Linked DNA regions of Homo sapiens: region 2 is linked to region 1. Evidence: fine-mapped QTL for protein levels in blood plasma. A gene starts in region 1. The other region holds a variant in brackets. All regions are shown on one strand. Distances are from middle to middle. Region 1 holds the start of CD200R1 (CD200 receptor 1). Region 2 overlaps CD200R1 (CD200 receptor 1).

What was found. A credible set is the group of variants that fine-mapping cannot tell apart. PIP is the chance, under the fine-mapping model, that this variant and not a neighbour inherited with it causes the effect. The UK Biobank Pharma Proteomics Project read protein levels with antibody pairs (Olink). The fine-mapping took linkage between variants from a reference panel, not from the people measured, so its PIPs are less certain.
Region 2: its variant is the best candidate, but not a certain one, in a credible set for the plasma level of the CD200R1 protein (UK Biobank, PIP 0.61).

What each region holds. Positions count from the first base shown.
Region 1 is chr3:112,968,187-112,976,499 of GRCh38, forward strand. It overlaps CD200R1 (CD200 receptor 1), which reads right to left and starts at 6,917. Exons shown (of 8, transcript NM_138806.4): 1 at 6,605-6,917. The coding sequence starts at 6,671.
Region 2 is chr3:112,934,041-112,942,367 of GRCh38, forward strand. The region is part of intron 2 of CD200R1 (CD200 receptor 1); the gene reads right to left. Among named protein-coding and RNA genes, the nearest start is that of CD200R1, 37 kb to the right of the region's middle. The variant TG/T (reference allele first, on the strand shown) is at 3,425.

The DNA of each region.
Region 1 (8,313 bases):
GGAAAGAAGAACGAAATTTTACTGAGAAAAGTGAAATGTACCAAAACATTCAATGCATGGGTAACATTTAGAAAGCAAAAAAGCATAATAATATATTCAATCTTAACATCCAAGACAATATAACCACTAAGTCAATATTAGTTGTAAAAATACAATAATATTTTAAAATATGTATATTTGAAGAAAGTTTCACTTCTTTATGGGCCAGTGAGTTTCCACAGGTAAGAACTATAAATTGTGGACAAAATATAAAAACAACTACCTGAGGTTACTGGAAAGTGGAGGAAGCAGAAAAATTCTTGAAGGGTGTCAATGCTTGGAAGAAGGAAATAGGGGATCAGAGTTGTGGGTGTAGGTTCCCATTATTTCCCCATTTTTACCGATGTTAGTCCCAGAGAGGGCTGCAGATGATACCACATTAGGCAGCTACTCTAATGGAAAGCCCACAGTTTTCTGAAGAACCAGCAGGCAGATTTTAGGGCAACTTTACTCTCTGAAAAGTGACAGAGTCAGAGTAAAAGAGTTCCAAATTCTGCATACACTCTACCCATATCTCTGATGACTCTAAACCACACATTGCAGGTCACAGTCAAAGCAGATTAGCTACCAGTAAAAGAACTCAGATTTGAGATGCTGTCCAAGGGGTAGAGTTTGCAGTTTGGGTCCAACCAAGTAAAATATCAACACAGCAATATAACAGAATCTGTGCAACATTCAAAACCCAAATAAAACTATTTAATTTACAAAGAACCAAGAAAATGTGGCCTATGCTTAGGAGAAAATACATTAAGGGAGACTAACAACTTCAAGTTGACCCAGACACTCGCATTCTCAGACAAGAGTCTTACAGCAACATTCAGCTATGCTTAGTGACATAAAGAAATATATACTCACAATGAATGAATAAAAACACAGAAAAATCTCAGCAGAGAAAAAAAACTTTTAACAAATAAATGGAAATCTTAAAATTGAAAAATACAATATCTAAAATAATATATTAACTAGGGCTTTACAGAAGAATGAAGAGGAGAAAGGAAATTGTAATTGTCAGTGAACTTGAATATATAGCAATAGAAATTATTCAATCAAAAGAACAGAGAGACAAGATATTGGGGAAAATATGTATAAAAAGGGAACTAAGAACTAAGAGAACTCCTCACTAGCAGACCTACACTACTAGAAACAATAACAGAAATTATTCAGGATGAAAGAAAATAATACCAGGTAGAAACTTGGAAATTCAAGAAGGAATTAAGAGTATTAGAAATGACAACTAGAGTGGACATAGTATGTGCCACCAACAGTTGCCTCTGACTTTTTGTTCCTGCCACTAGGATCACTGTCAACAGACAGTCTTCAGTTTTCAGCCTCTCCAGGGATGACTTCAGTTACTTAGACCAAAGTCAGACCCTTTCCAGGGGAGCCCATATCCAACGACTGATTTAGATGGAGTTATAAAGGAACAGCCATTTTTATTCAATGCAGGGCCTCTCTAAGGCCAATCTAGCTCCTGAGCTCCCTGTGGGGTCAGTGAGGGTGTCAGTTGGTTGAGATTGCAGGTAGACTTCTCCCTCTGCTCACAAGCATACTGTACACAAAACTCTATCTCAGAGTCTAACTTCCAAGAGAACCTGCAACAGCAACAATAACTCAAAGTAACAGACATTTTTGAAGAAAATTATTTCTTCAAAAGTGGAAAAACTGGCCAGGTACAGTGACTCACGCCTGTAATTCCAACACTTTGGGAGGCCAAGGCAGGAGGATTGCTTGAACCCAGGAGTTCAAGACCAGCCTGGGCAACATGGGAAAACCCTGTCTCTACAAAAAATACAAAAAAAAAAATTAGCCTGGCGTGGTGGTGCACACCTGTAGTCCCAGCTACTTGGGAGTCTGAAACAGGAGGATAACCTGAGACTGGGAGGTCAAGGCTGCAGTAAGCCATGATTGCACCACTGCACTCCAGCCTGAGTGATAGATAGAGTAAGACCCTGTCTCAAAAAAGAAATAGAAAAACTTTTAGCCCTGCTTTAATCCTGGAACTTTTTGGTATTGCTTTCCTTAAAGATTTTGGTCCTAGAATGGGGTCTAGGCATATAAATTCTATGTAGAAAAACTCTGAAGTTGTTGCTTAGTGTTAATGCATGAACAATATCATTTCTTCCTGGGGGGAAAAAGGGCTGATTGTGACTGTGTCTATTATATGAATTATATAAATCAGTGATATTTATTACCATTATTATTATTTAAAAAGTAATGATTGTTGACTTGATTCTTAGGGCCTACTAGCATCACATAGTCCAAAGGTATTTTATAACCACAGATCTGCTCCCAAATCCCAGTCAGCAATTGACAAATGTATGTGAGTGATAATAAGGCAGAAGAGGTAAAAACATGTTGATGGCTACTACATTTTTCAGACACAAATGGTTTTTCAGACACAAATGGTTAATTTTTCAGACACAACATAAAATCAAACAACAACTGGGTCATTTTATTAACTAAATGCCATTAACTGAAATATTCATGACCTTATTGGGAGGAAATTTATCTACGGTAAACTCTCTCATTTGTTCCCATTACCTTATTGCCATCCTCAAGCTACTAGCATCCCTCTATCTAATGTCTCATCTTAATCCTCAATTTCAGAAGAGTATCTCCTCCTACATGAGGTTAAGCACTCAATTGATACTCCACTTTGGCTCCCTTCCTGTCTCTTCTCAGATCTTCCTATCTTTTATAGACTGGAAAGAGATAAGTATGGTTCTTAGAGCCCAAATCCAAATATCTCTAGTGCTTATTCTATTGTTTTTGTCCATATGTTTATTCTGTTCGTGGGATGGATCATCTACTTCATGAATGATTCACAAACACTAGAGTTTTCTATACAGTCATCCCTCAGTGTCCTTGGGGGATTAGTTCTAGACCCCCAGAGATGGCAAAATTCAAGGATGCTCAAATCCCTAATATAAAATGGTGTAGTATTTCATATAACCTATGTACAATCTCTCACATACTTTCAATCATCTCTAGATTGCTATAAAACCTAATACAATGTAAATAATACATAAGTAGCTATTATATTGAATTATTTAGGAAATGACAAGAACAAAATCTGTACATGTTCAGTACTAATGAAATCATCTATTTTTTCCCTTTATATTTTCAACTGAAGTTGGTTGAATCCAGGGATGCAATACAGAGGGCTGACTGTATTTCCAAGTATCTGTAGGAATTTTCCTCCTACTTGTCCTCCCTTCCTATACTGAATTTAATATCTTCCTCCACAACGAAACTCCCTTCTCAGTCACATATATACCTCAGCGGCATCACAGAACTTTTTTCAAATGAGAACCCCAGGGCAGAAGCTCTTGACTCATGTTTCAAAATAAATATTTTACCTAGTGCCACCGCCACTCAATGGGACACTGTTACCACATTATTCTCCAAAAAATCCTACTTAATTATAAATTTTCCTGTTCACCAAAGAACAGGTGGTTCCTCATTGTCTACTGACTAATACCCAGGTTCTTTAATTTAGCTATTAAGGACCCCCAAAATCCAGCCTTATTTCCTACTATTATTTAACACACAACCTCTGTTCCTGCAAGCTACAGCTCTTTCTCTCTCTGAAGCACCTTGCATTTGCACATGCTACACATCCCATCCTTCCAATTCCTTTCTCTGCATTTCCCCATTTATCCAAACCTGTCATTCAAAGCCTAGCTCAAGACCCATCTCCATAAAATCCTCCACAACTCCAACCCACTGTAATTTCTCCCTCCTTTAGATTTGTACTAGTTTCATATACAATTTCAAGATTTACTGATTTTAAATGTTCACCAATTGTTTCATCTTACCTTTGTCTTTCTAATTTAGATTACTAATAACTTTTAGGCACTATTCTACACACACACACAGACATTAATAAGGACTTTTAATTAATTTATTAATTGCTTAAGCATGAACATTTAGAGAAAAACACACCTATAAATTATTATAACATGTAAATTCACAAATATGCAAACTAGAAAAGGAAGATAGGACTAAAGTTATTAATAAGGACAAAACCCTTCTTTTGCACAATTGTTTTGAATCTTTTTCCACTGTTTGCAAATCTGCCAAAGCTACCTTAGAGCCCTGTCTTGATTTTTATCTCCTCTTCTTGTTACTGCCTGTCCTCTAGTGGAAGACAACAATAAATGAATAAAAATTAGCCCAAAGAAGGAAAGAAGTGAAGGGTTCCTTTTTAGTAACTCATAATCACAAAATCAGTAACTTTTATAAAAGATGGAATAATTTTAATTGGAACACCAAAATATAATTTGAACACACACACAAAAATCTAGAAGACAATAGGGCTAAAAAAAAGGAGGAAGAAGTGGCACAGGGTACGGGGAGTGTCCGGGAAGGGGACCAGGTACAAGGCTGGGAATATAGCTCTGATGTACACAATTTAGGTTGTTTTTATTTTTCCCCTTAGGTTTTTTCTGGATAAATCTTGTTTACTAACTGCCAAGCTGCTTGAAGTTATAAGCAAATAAGTAGACAAAAAGAAAATAGGGAAACCAAATGAATACTATGTTTTACATTTAAGTCATTAGCTCCCTTGTTCCTTTGTGAATTTACCTTGTACAAAGCGAGTTCTTTCTGTTTGGCAGTATTAATAACATAGCAGTTTTAGCAATAAAGACATAAAGTCATATTTCCCCAAGTGGTATGCTTCTCATTATTCTAAATCATGTCATGGTTAACCTATCACACCAAATCACTACATGTAAAGTAATATGCTTTTTTAAATCCTGATTTTAAACATTTAATAACTTTACAATAACATAAGCATAGACTTCATAGATCTGCTATATGTAGTCTTTCCTAGTTGTGTTCAGAAATAGTTTTAAAATTTAAACCTTTCAACCTTTAAAATTGAAAATTACAAATTATGTTTTAATCATTTTTTTTCCTTTTCCCAGGAGTAACAGTGCAATTTGACATAAACAGCTCCTTGCCTATCTGGCTGCCCCAGCCAAGCTGGGTCCTACACAAGTTGCTATAAGAGCTTTCTACAACAAGATCTGAACTACTGAAAGATTCAGATCACTTGACTTTTTAGGTGAGTAACAGTCTATTAAGGCTAAAACTAAGTATTGGCTTGACTTTTTTCACTGATGCTCTTCAGTGAAAAGCACAATGGTTAAATAATGAGGAAAATTGCCCACTCAAATGTTTAGTGGTGCTTACTGATGTATATCATTACTGATTGTGATTCTGGCACATACTAGTCATATCTAACCTTGGCCAAATCATTTCACCTCTCTACGCCTCCATTTCTACCTTTGTAAAATGGAGAGGTGTCTTCCATGTCTACTTCACTGGGTTGCTGTGCAGATCAAAGGGAAAAAAGCATGTGAAAATTCTCAATAGAAAGGTGCAGTCAAAGAGTGTAGTTATTTTGCATGTGTTCACTAGTAAGATTAACATGTGGAAAGAAGATTTTTTGTGGAAGATAAGCAGCATTTTAAAGTCATTCAGAAATGAGGAAAAATACCTTTTCTTCTTTCAATTATCAAATTATAACATTTAAAACCAACTACACTCTTCCCTTGCAGCTGCTCTGTCTACCAAAAGTGAAACCTGAAAACTCCCTCCCACACCAACTCCTACCAACCTTCTACAGTGAAACCAGGACACCCCCACAGTGGCCCAAGTTCTCTATAACTTCTATAGGAACCTAGATGTTGAAGAGTCTGTTCTCTAACTCGTAGTGTCTCTTACAGCCCACACATCTTGAAGATAAATACAGACATACATCACAGACGCACCACTGTAACTGTAGGCATATTATATTTTTGAAGTGCCTAATCATCGAAAGTGACAGAAAGCAATAAACTGTCCTAATCTATGCCACTGGCAATGTGGACCTAAATGAGTTAGCGTTCTTATCTTAAAAAAAAAAATTAAGAGAGAAGAGGCTGGGTGCAGTGGCTCATGCCTGTAATCCCAATGCTTTGGGAGTCTGAGGTGGGAGAATTGCTTGAAGACAGGAGCTCAAGACCAGCATGGACAATATAGCAAGACTCTATCTCTACCAAAAATTTTAAAAATTAGCCAAGCATAGTGGCGCATATCTGTAGTCCTAGACACTCAGGAGGCTGAGTGGGAGGACTGCTTGAGACCTGGAGTTACAGGCTGCAGTGAGCTACGATTGCACCACTGCACTCCAGCCTGGGCAACAGAGCAAGACCCTGTCTCAAAAAAGGGGGTTGGGGAAGAGAATAAGATAAAGAGAACCTAACTGACTTTGATTGCTGCTAGTATGTATTTGATTTATCCTGCCTTGTTCAAAAAACAGGAGGAAATAAGGAAATGGACAGTAAGACAAATTATAGAGATCTGTATATTGTAGTAGGATACAAAGTACAACAAGCAAGACACCGGAAAAAAGGATAATAAAGTAAACTAGATATGGGAGTAACCCATATTTAGCAACCCCCTATATTTATTATTGCAATTGATTTGTATTGCCCCAGAAGAAAGACAAAAAATAAACTCAGGAAGAGCTGAGACCAGGTTTCTCACTGTTCTCCCAAAGAGAATTCAAACTTACCGGCCACTAAGAAGATAGTCAAAATCAACAGTAGCCCTAGGTTAGCAGTTCTCCAAGGGCAGAGCATTTCTGTTTTCTCTTTTTCTGCCCTTCACTCAGTACTTTTCCTCCACACAGGTACAGAAGGAACTGTGCGCATGGTGAGACCCTCTCTGGTCAACTTCTCAGTACAGGATCCTCTTACCCCATCAACAGTGGGGCACTCCCTTCCTTCTAGCCCCTTCCTTCACGTCTATGTGGTTTAGCCTGGTTAGTAACTTGGACGAACAGAAGCTTTTCTCTGGAACTTGACACAGCAATAGATTTCCTGTATGAAGCCCTGAAGCAAAGACGGAGGAAGCAGATTGATTGAATTATCTCTCAGCTCATTGGTTCTCCTCTCACTTCTGCTGTACACAGACAAACTTTACAGTAAGGCATTGAACGTGTCCAAGATAAACAGATTTGTCTAAACTTGCACCAAAAAGTAAAACAGAATATTGATCTACTTTGGCCCATCCTTGTAAATTTCCCAATTATGATGACTTTTAGAGGCTTTCTCCAGGTTGAAGAGCTTTACGGCCTTAGTATTTGAGTCTGGAATACAATATGTTTTCTTGAAAATTATTGTGTGAAATTCCTGTCTATAATGGGAGTCAACACACAACCCTGTAAACATCATATGTGTATTAGTTTCCTATTGCTACTGTAAGAAATTACCACAAACTCAGTGGCTTAACACAACACAACATTTATTATCTTACAGTTCTGGTGATCAGAAGTCTGAAATGGATCTTAGGGGACTAAAATCAAGGTGTTGGAAGGGCTGCACTCCATCTGGAGGCTCGGGCAGAATTTGCTCCCTGCCTTTTCCAGCGATTTGAGAATGCCTGCATTTCTTGGCTTGCAGCTACATCATTCGGACCTCTGGTCCACTGTCACATCTTCTCTGACTGTGACCCTTATGCCTCCCTTTTATAAAGACCTTGTGATTATTTTTGGTCCACCCAAATAATCCAACATGATCTAATTTCAAGATCTTAATTTAATCACATCTGCAAAGTCCTTTTTGCCACACAAGGTAACATTCACAGGTTTCGGTAATTCGGACATAGGTATCTACCTTGTTGGGGGTGAGGGCATTCTGTTTATCAGAACTCAGTACTTATTGCCATTCAGTTTCACCTTTGGAAAATTAGACTGATCATTTTAACCAAATTACAAATAATCACCCATCTCTTAGTTGCCACACATCTGGAATTCAGACTCCCCCTAACCAAAAAAAAAAAACAACAACAACAACAAAAAAACCTCTTCCTTACTGTTGCTAGTTACTATGTTACTATGCTTTTAAGTTATGTCTGAGAGAGGGAAAAATCTTCTATGTGCTGAGAATTTTCTGCCCCAAGGCAAAACTGTACAGGAAGGGGAAGAAAACATTGCAAACAGGAAAAAGATTAAACAGCATGCATTTTTTTTCTCAGTTAGCAGTTTCATCTTCCTTCTTGCCAAACATTATAAATATTTCCCCCCTTCCCCTTCTCAAGCTTTTTTTTCCAGTTAATTAATTTGATGAAGACAGTGAAACCAGATCCTTGAGGGCATGGAACACTTAAGGGTATGAGCTGTGACAATGGGAAGACCAAAACAAAAATGTCTTCTCTTCTGTCTAATGTTTCACCAGGTGTCGGAAAATTAGTGAGAATACATCATTTAAAATACAGATAATA
Region 2 (8,327 bases), 34 kb before region 1:
GAAAAAGGCACAGAAAACATATTTAATAAAATAATAGCAGAAAACTTTCCAAGTTTTGGGAGAGAGAGAGAGATTCAGATCCAAGAAGTTCAAAATTTCCCAAATAGATTTAACCCAAATACATCCTCTCTAAGGAATGTTATAGTCAAATTATCAAAAGGCAAAGACAAAGGAAGAATGATAAAAACACGCAAGAGAAAAGCATCAAGCCAAATATAAGGGAATCCCCCTTATACTGATAGCAGATTTCTCATCAGAAACCTTATGGGCCAAGAGAAAATGGAGTGATACATTCAAAGTACTGAAAGAAAATAACTGTCAGTGAATATTATATCCAGAAAAACTATCCTTCAGAAATAAAGGCAAGACTGTCACCAAGCAGAAAAAAAAAATCAATAAAATGACAGATGTAAGTTCTCATCTATCAAATAATCTTGAATGTAAATGGATTCAATTTCCCAATTAAAAGATATAGACTGGCCAAGTGGATTTAAAAATATAAGACCCAGCTGGGCATGGTGGCTCACGCCTGTAATCCTAGCACTTTGGGAGGCCAAGGAGGGTGCATTACCTGAAGTCAAGAGTTTGAGACTAGCCCGGCCAACATGATGAAACCCCATCCCTACTAAAAATACAAAAATTAGCTGGACATGGTGGCGGGCACCTGTAATCCCAGCTACTCAGGAGGCTGAGGCAGGAGAATTGCTTGAACCGGGGAAGCAGAGGTTGCAGTGAACCAAGATCATGCCATTGCACTCCAGCCTGGGTGACAAGAGCGAAACTCCATCTCAAAAAACCAACTATATGCCACCTACAGGAAACTCATCTCACCTGTAAAGACACACATAAACTGAAAGTGGAGTGGAAAAAAGACATGCAAACAGAATCCAAATACAAGCAGGAGTAGCTATACTTACATTAGATAAAACAGACTTTAAGACAAAGGCTATATAAAAAAGAACATTATGTAAAAATAAAGGAATTTATTCAGCAAGACGACATAACAATTGGAAATATATATGGACCCAATGTTGGAGCACCCAGATATATAAAGCTAATATTATTAAAGCTAAAGGGAGAGATAAACCTCAAAGCAATAATAGGTGGGGACTTCAACACCCTACTTTCAGCATTAGGCAGATGATCTAGACAGAAAATCAAGAAACATTGGATCTAAACCACACCATAAATCAAACAGACCTAACAGACCTTTACAGAACATTTTATATAACAGCTGCAAAATACACATTATTTTCACCAGCACATGGAACATTCTCCAGAATTGACAATATGTTAGGTCACAAAACAAGTCTCAAATAATTTTTAAAAATTACAATCATATCATCTTATGTGACCACAATGGAATAAAATTAGAAATCAATAACAAGAGGAACATTTGAAACTATACAAATACATGAAAGTTAAACAGCATGTTCCTGAATGACAAATGAGTAAAGAAAGAAATTAAGAAGTTTAAGAATTTCTTGAAACAAATGAAAATAGAAACACAAAATACCAAAACCTAAGGGATACAGCAAAAGCAGCATTAAGAGGCAAATCCATAGCAATAAATCCCTACATCAAAAAAGTAGTAATATTTCAAATTAACATCCTAACAGCACATATTAAGGAAGAAAACCAGGAATAAACTGAACCCAAAATTAGTAGGAGGAATAAAGATCAGAGCAGAACTCAATGAAACTGAACCTAAAAAGAAATGCAAAAAACCAACAACAAAAAAGTTTTGTTTTTTCTGTTTGCAATATTTTAACTTCAGGGGTATATAGGTAGGATGTGCAGGTTTATTAGGTAAATGTATGCCATGGTGATTTGCTGCACAGATCATTCCATCACCGAGGTATTAAGCCCAGCATCCATCAGCTATTCTTTCTGATGCTCTCCCTCCTCCCACTCCCCACCCTCTGACAGGCTCCAGTGTGTGTTTCCACCCTCCATATGTCCATGTGTTCTTATCATTCAGCTCCCACTTATAAGTGAGAAAATGCACTGTTTGGTTTTCTGTTTCTGCATTAGTTTGCTGAGGATAATCTAATCACCTCCACCTGCATCCATGTCCCTGCAAAGGACATGAACTCATCTATACATGGCTGCATAATATTTCATGGTATATATGTACCACATTTTCTTTATTCAGTCTATCACTGATGGGCATTTAGGTTGACTTCATGTCTTTGCTATTGTGAATAGTGCTGCAATGAACATACACGTGCATGTATCCTTAAAATGGAATTATTTATATTCCTTTGGGTATATACCCAGTAATCAGATTGCCGAGTCAAACAGTATTTCTGCCTCTATGTCTTTGATGAATCACCACATTGTCTTCCACAATGGTTGCACTAATTTACACTCCCACCAACAGTGTAAAAGTGTTCCTTTTTCTCCATAACCTCGCTAGCATCTGTTGTTTCTGGACTTTTTAGTAATCACCATTCTGACTGGTGTGAGATAGTATCTCATTGTAGTTTTGATTTGCATTTCTCTAATGATCAGTGATGTTGAGCTTTTTTTCATATGTTTCTTGGTTGCATGTATGTCTTCTTTTGAGAATTATCTATTCATGTTCCTTACCCACTTTTTAATGGGGTTCTTTTTTTCTTATACATTTGTTTAAGTTCCTTGTAGATGCTGGACATTAGGCCTTTGTTAGATGAATAGATTATAAAACTTTTCTCCCATTCTGTAGGTTGTCTGTTTACTCTGTTGATAGTTTCTTTGGCTGTGCAGAAGCTCTTTAGTTTAATCAGATCCCATTTGTCAATTTTTGTTTTTGTTGAAGTTGCTTTTGGCATCTTTGTCATGAAATCATGAAATCTTTGCCTGAGCCTATGTCCTGAATGATATTGTCTTGATTTTCTTCTAGGGTTTTTAGAGTTTGGGGTTTTACGTTTAAGTCTTTAATCCATCTTGAGTTGATTTTTGTACATGATGTAAGGAAGGTGTTTTACTCTGCTCTCATGCTGCTAATAAAGACATACCCAAGACTGGATAATTTATAAAAGAAAGAGGTTTAATTGACTCATAGTTCAGCATGGCTTGGGAGGCCTCAGAAAATTTACAATCACGACAGAAGGGGAAGCAGACATGTCCTTTTTCACATGGCAGCAGCATGGAGAAGTGCCAAGCAAAAGGAGGAAAAGCCCCTTATAAAACCGTCAAATCTCATGAGAATTCACTCACTATCATGAGAACAGCATGAGAGTAACTGCCCCCCATGATTAAATTACCTCCCAGCAGGTCCCTCCCATGACACATGGAGATTATAGAAACTACATTTCAAGATGAGATTTGGGTGGGGACACAGCCAAACCATATCAGAAGGGGTCCACTTTCAATTTTCTTCATATGGCTAGCCAGCTGTCCCAGCACCATTTATTAAATAGGGAATCCTTTCCCCATTGCT[TG/T]TTTCTGTCAGGTTTGTCAAAGATAAGATAGTTGTAGGTGTGCGGTGTTATTTCTGGGTTCTCTATTCTGTTCCATTGGTCTATGTGTCTGTTCTCGTACAACTACCATGCTGTTTTGATTACTGTAGCCCTATAGTATAGTTTGAAGTCAGGTAGCATGATGCTTCCAGCTTTGTTCTTTTTGCTGAGAATTGCCTTTGCTATTTGGGTTATGTTTTGGTTCCATATGAATTTTAAAACTGTTTTTTCTAATTCTGTGAACAATGTCAATTGTAGCTTAATGGGAATAGCACTGAATCTATAAACTATTTTGGGCAGTATGGTCATTTTCACAATATTGATTCTTCCTATCCATGAGCATGGACTGTTTTTCCATTTGTTTGTGTCATCTCTGATTTCTTTGAGCAGCAGTTTATAGTTTTTCTTAAAGAGGTCCTTCACTTCCCTTGTTAGTTGTTTTCCTAGGTATTTTATTCTTTTGTGGCAATTGTGAATGGGCGTTCATTTATGATTTGGCTCTTGTCTTGTCTGTTGTTGGTGTATAGGAATACTAGCAATTTTTGCACAATGATTTTGGATCCTGAAACTTTGCAGAAGTTACTTATCAGCTTAAGAAGCTTTTGGGCTGAGATGATGGGGTTTTCTAGATATAGAATCATGTTATCTGCAAACAAAGATAACTTGAGTTCCTCTCCTCCTATTTGAATTTTCTTTGTTTCTTTCTCTTGCATGATTACCCTGGCCACAACTTCCAATACCATGTTAAATAGAAGTGGTGAGAGAGGGCATCCTTGTCTTGTGCCAGTTTTCAAGGGGAATGCTTCTAGTTTTTGCCCATTCAGTATGATATGAGCTGTGGGTTTGTAAAAAGATTAACATAATTGACAAGCCATTAGCTAGATGAATAAAGAAAAAAAGAGAAAAAACCAAATTAATAAAATCAGAAACAAAAAGGAGACATAATAACAGAGACTACATAAATACAAAAGACCATTAGAAACTATTATGAACAACTACACATGAATAAATTCAAAAGATTAGAGAAAACTGAAAAATTCCCGGATACAGACAACCTAACAACTTTAAACCAACAAGAAATGGAAAACCTCAGTCCAATAATGAGTAATGAGATTGAATTAGTAATGAAAAGTCTCCCAACAAAGAAAAGTCCAGGAACAAATGGCTTCACAGCTGAATTCTACCAAACTTTTAAAGAACTAATACCAGTCCTTGATACACAGATGAAATACTTCAAACTATTCCAAAAAATTGAATGTAAAACTCATTTGAATGTCATCGAATGTCAAAACTCATTTGACAAGCCCAGCATGATTGTGATACAAAAACCAGATAAGACACAGCAAAAAAGAAAAGCACAAGCCAATACTACTAATAAACATATATATAAAATACTAGCAAATGAATTCAACAGAACATCAAAAACATCAGGCACCATAATCAAGTGAGATTCACCTCAGATATGCAAGGATGGTTCAACATATGCAAATCGATATTTGTGATACATTGCATCAACAAAATGAAGAACAAAAACTAGGTGATTATTTTAATATCATATGATCAGAAAAAGCATTTTATAAAATTCAACATCCCTTCATCACTAAAAACTTTCAATAAATTAGGTACAGAAGAAAGTACTTCAACACAATAAAGGCCATCTATAGGCCATGTAGCTAATATTATACTAAATGGGGAAAAGCTTTCAGCTTTTAAGAATTAGAAGAAGAATTAGAAGAAAAAGTGCCTACTCTCACCCTTGTTATTCAAGATAGTACTGGAAGTCTGGCCCAGAGAAATTAGGCAAGAAAAATAAATAAGTAAAGTACATCCAATTTAGAAAGGAGGAAGTCAAATTGTCCATGTTTCCAGATAAAATTATCTTATATAGAGAAACCCTAAAGACTGCACCAAAAAACTGTTAACACTGATAAACAAATTCAATAAAGTTGCAGCATACAAAATCAATAGACAAAACTTAGTAGCATTTCTATACACAAACAACAAACCAGATGAAAAGGAAATCATGAAAGCAATCCCATTTACAATAGCTACAAAAATATATAAATGAATGAATAAAATATCTACGAATGAATTTAACCAAGGAGATGAAAGATCTCTGCAAGTAAAGCCATACAACACTGCAGAAAGAAATTTAAGAAGACACAAAAAATAGAAAGACATCCCATATTCATGGACTAGAATAACTAATATTGTTAAAATGCCCATACTACCCAAAGTAGTCTACAGAATAAATGTAATTACTATCAAGATACCAATGAAGTGTCATTTCATTTAACAAAAATAGAAAAAAAATCCTGAAATTTACATGGAACCACAAAAGACCCGAAACAGCCAAAGCCCATACTGAGCAAAAAACAAACAAACCAAAAAAAAAAAAAAAACAAGCTGCGGCATCACACTAACAGACTTCAAAATATACCATAAAGCTGTACTAATCAAAACAGCATGGTACTGGCATAAAAACCGACACATAGAAAAATGGAACAGCATAGAGAACCCAGAAATTAGTCCACATATATACAGTCAACTGCTTTGACAAAGATGTCAAGAACATACATTTGGGAAAGGACACCTTCTTTAATAAATGGCGCTGGGTAAACTGAATATTCATATGCAGAAGAATGAAACTAGACCTCCTGCCTCTCACCCCATACAAAAATCAACTCAAAATTCATTGAAGACCTAAATATAAGACCAGAAACTATAAAACTGCTAGAAGAAAACACCGATGAAATACTTCAGGACATTGATCTGAGAAATAATTTTAAGAATAAGACCTCAATAGCATAGGTAACTAAAGCAAAAATAAACACATGGGATTATATAAAACTAAAAACCTTCTGCACAGCAAAACAATAAACAGAATGAATAAACTTACAGAATGGGATAAAATATTTGTAAAATATTCATCCAACAAAAGAGTAATATCCAGATATACAAGGAATTCAAATATCTCCACAATAACAGAAAAACTAACTTAAAAATGGGTAATTGATACAGATATTTCTGAACAGAAGACATACATATGGTTAACAAATACATGAAAAAGTGCTCAACATCACTAATCATCAAGGAAATGTCAATTAAAATCACAAGGAGATATCATTCACCCCAGTTAGAATGGCTATTATCAAAAAGACACAAATAAATGTTGGTGAGGATGCAAAGAAAAGGGAATTCTTATAAATCACTGATAGGAATGTAAACTAATACAGTCTCTATGAAGAATAGTATGGAAGTTCCTAAAAAAATTAGAAATAGAAATGTCATATGATCCAGCAATCTTGCTCGTAAACATTTATTCAAAGGAAAGGAAATAAATATGTTAAAGAAATATCTATCTGCACCCCTATGTTTATTACAGCAATATTCACAATAGCCAAGACAGGAAATCAACCCAAACGCCCAATAACAAATGAATGGATAAAGAAAATGTGGTATATATACACAATGGAATACTATTCAGCCATAAAAAATGAAATCTTGTCATTCACAGCAACATGGATGGAACCGGAGGATATTATGTTGAGTGAAATAAGCCAAGAACAAAAAGCCAAACATCACATGTTCTCATTCTATGCAGAAGTTTAAAAAAAGTTGGTCTCATAGAAGTAAAAGGCAGAACACAGGCTTCTATAGACTACAAAGGGTAAGGGAAAGGGGGGAATAGAGGAAATTTGTTAAAGGGCACAAAATTATAGCTAGGTAGGATGAGCAAGTTCTATTGTTTTATAGTACTGTAGGATGACTATAGTTCACAATAATATATTACATATTTTCAAAGAGCTAGAAGAAGATATTGAATGTTCCCAACACAAGGAAATGTTTGAAGTGAAGGATATGCCAATTACCATGATCTGATTACTACAAATTGTATGTATCAAAATATTACTATGTACCCCATAAATATGTGCAATTATTATGTGTCAGTTAAAATTAATATAAATAAGTAACTAAAGCAGAAGCAGGAGAGGAACAGAGATGAGAGCCCTCATCTAGTTCAACTTTCTAATTCCATAATTTCTGAGATCAACATGCATTCCTTCCCTTGAGCTCTGTAGAGTTTTTCACAATCACAATAGTTTTAATCTATTTCAAATTTTGTTTTTGAAAAGTTGCTATATTGTAGTTAAAAAAATGAAAAAAATAAGAAATACTTTAAATAATAATGACTAAGAATTTTCTCCAAATTAATTTCAGACACTAAATCACAGATCCAGGAAACTCAGAGAACGCCAAGCAGAATAAATGCCAAAAATAACCTACACCTAGATGTATTATTTTCAAATTACAGAAAATCAAATGTAAAGAAATACTTCAGAAAGAAGCCAGAAGGGAAAAACACCTTACCTACCAAGAAGAAAAGAAAAGAATTATACCCAACTTCTCCTCAGAGACCATGCAAGCAAGAAGACAGCAAAGTAAAATATTTGAGGTGTTGAGGGAAAAAAACTACCAACCTAGAATTTCATGTCCTGCAAAAACTATCCTCCAAAACTGAAGGAGAAATAAAGATGTTCTCAGACAAACAAAAATTGTGGGAATTTGTTGTCTGTAGGCCTGCCTTCCAAAAAATGTTGAGAGAAATTTTTTTAGAGAGAAGTAAAATAATATCAGTCAAAAACTCAGATCTATATCAAGAAGAACACTGGAAAACAAACAAGTGAAGGTAAAATTAAAACTTGCATTTTTCTTATTCTTAATTAATCTAACAGATAACACTTTGTCCAAAATAATGATAGTAACAATGTATTTGATTATGTATGTGTTATGTATAAGAAGAATGAATAAAATAATGATACAAGGAAAGGAAGGAAGGAACTAGGACTATTTTGTTATTGCAAGGTATTCACACTACCCATG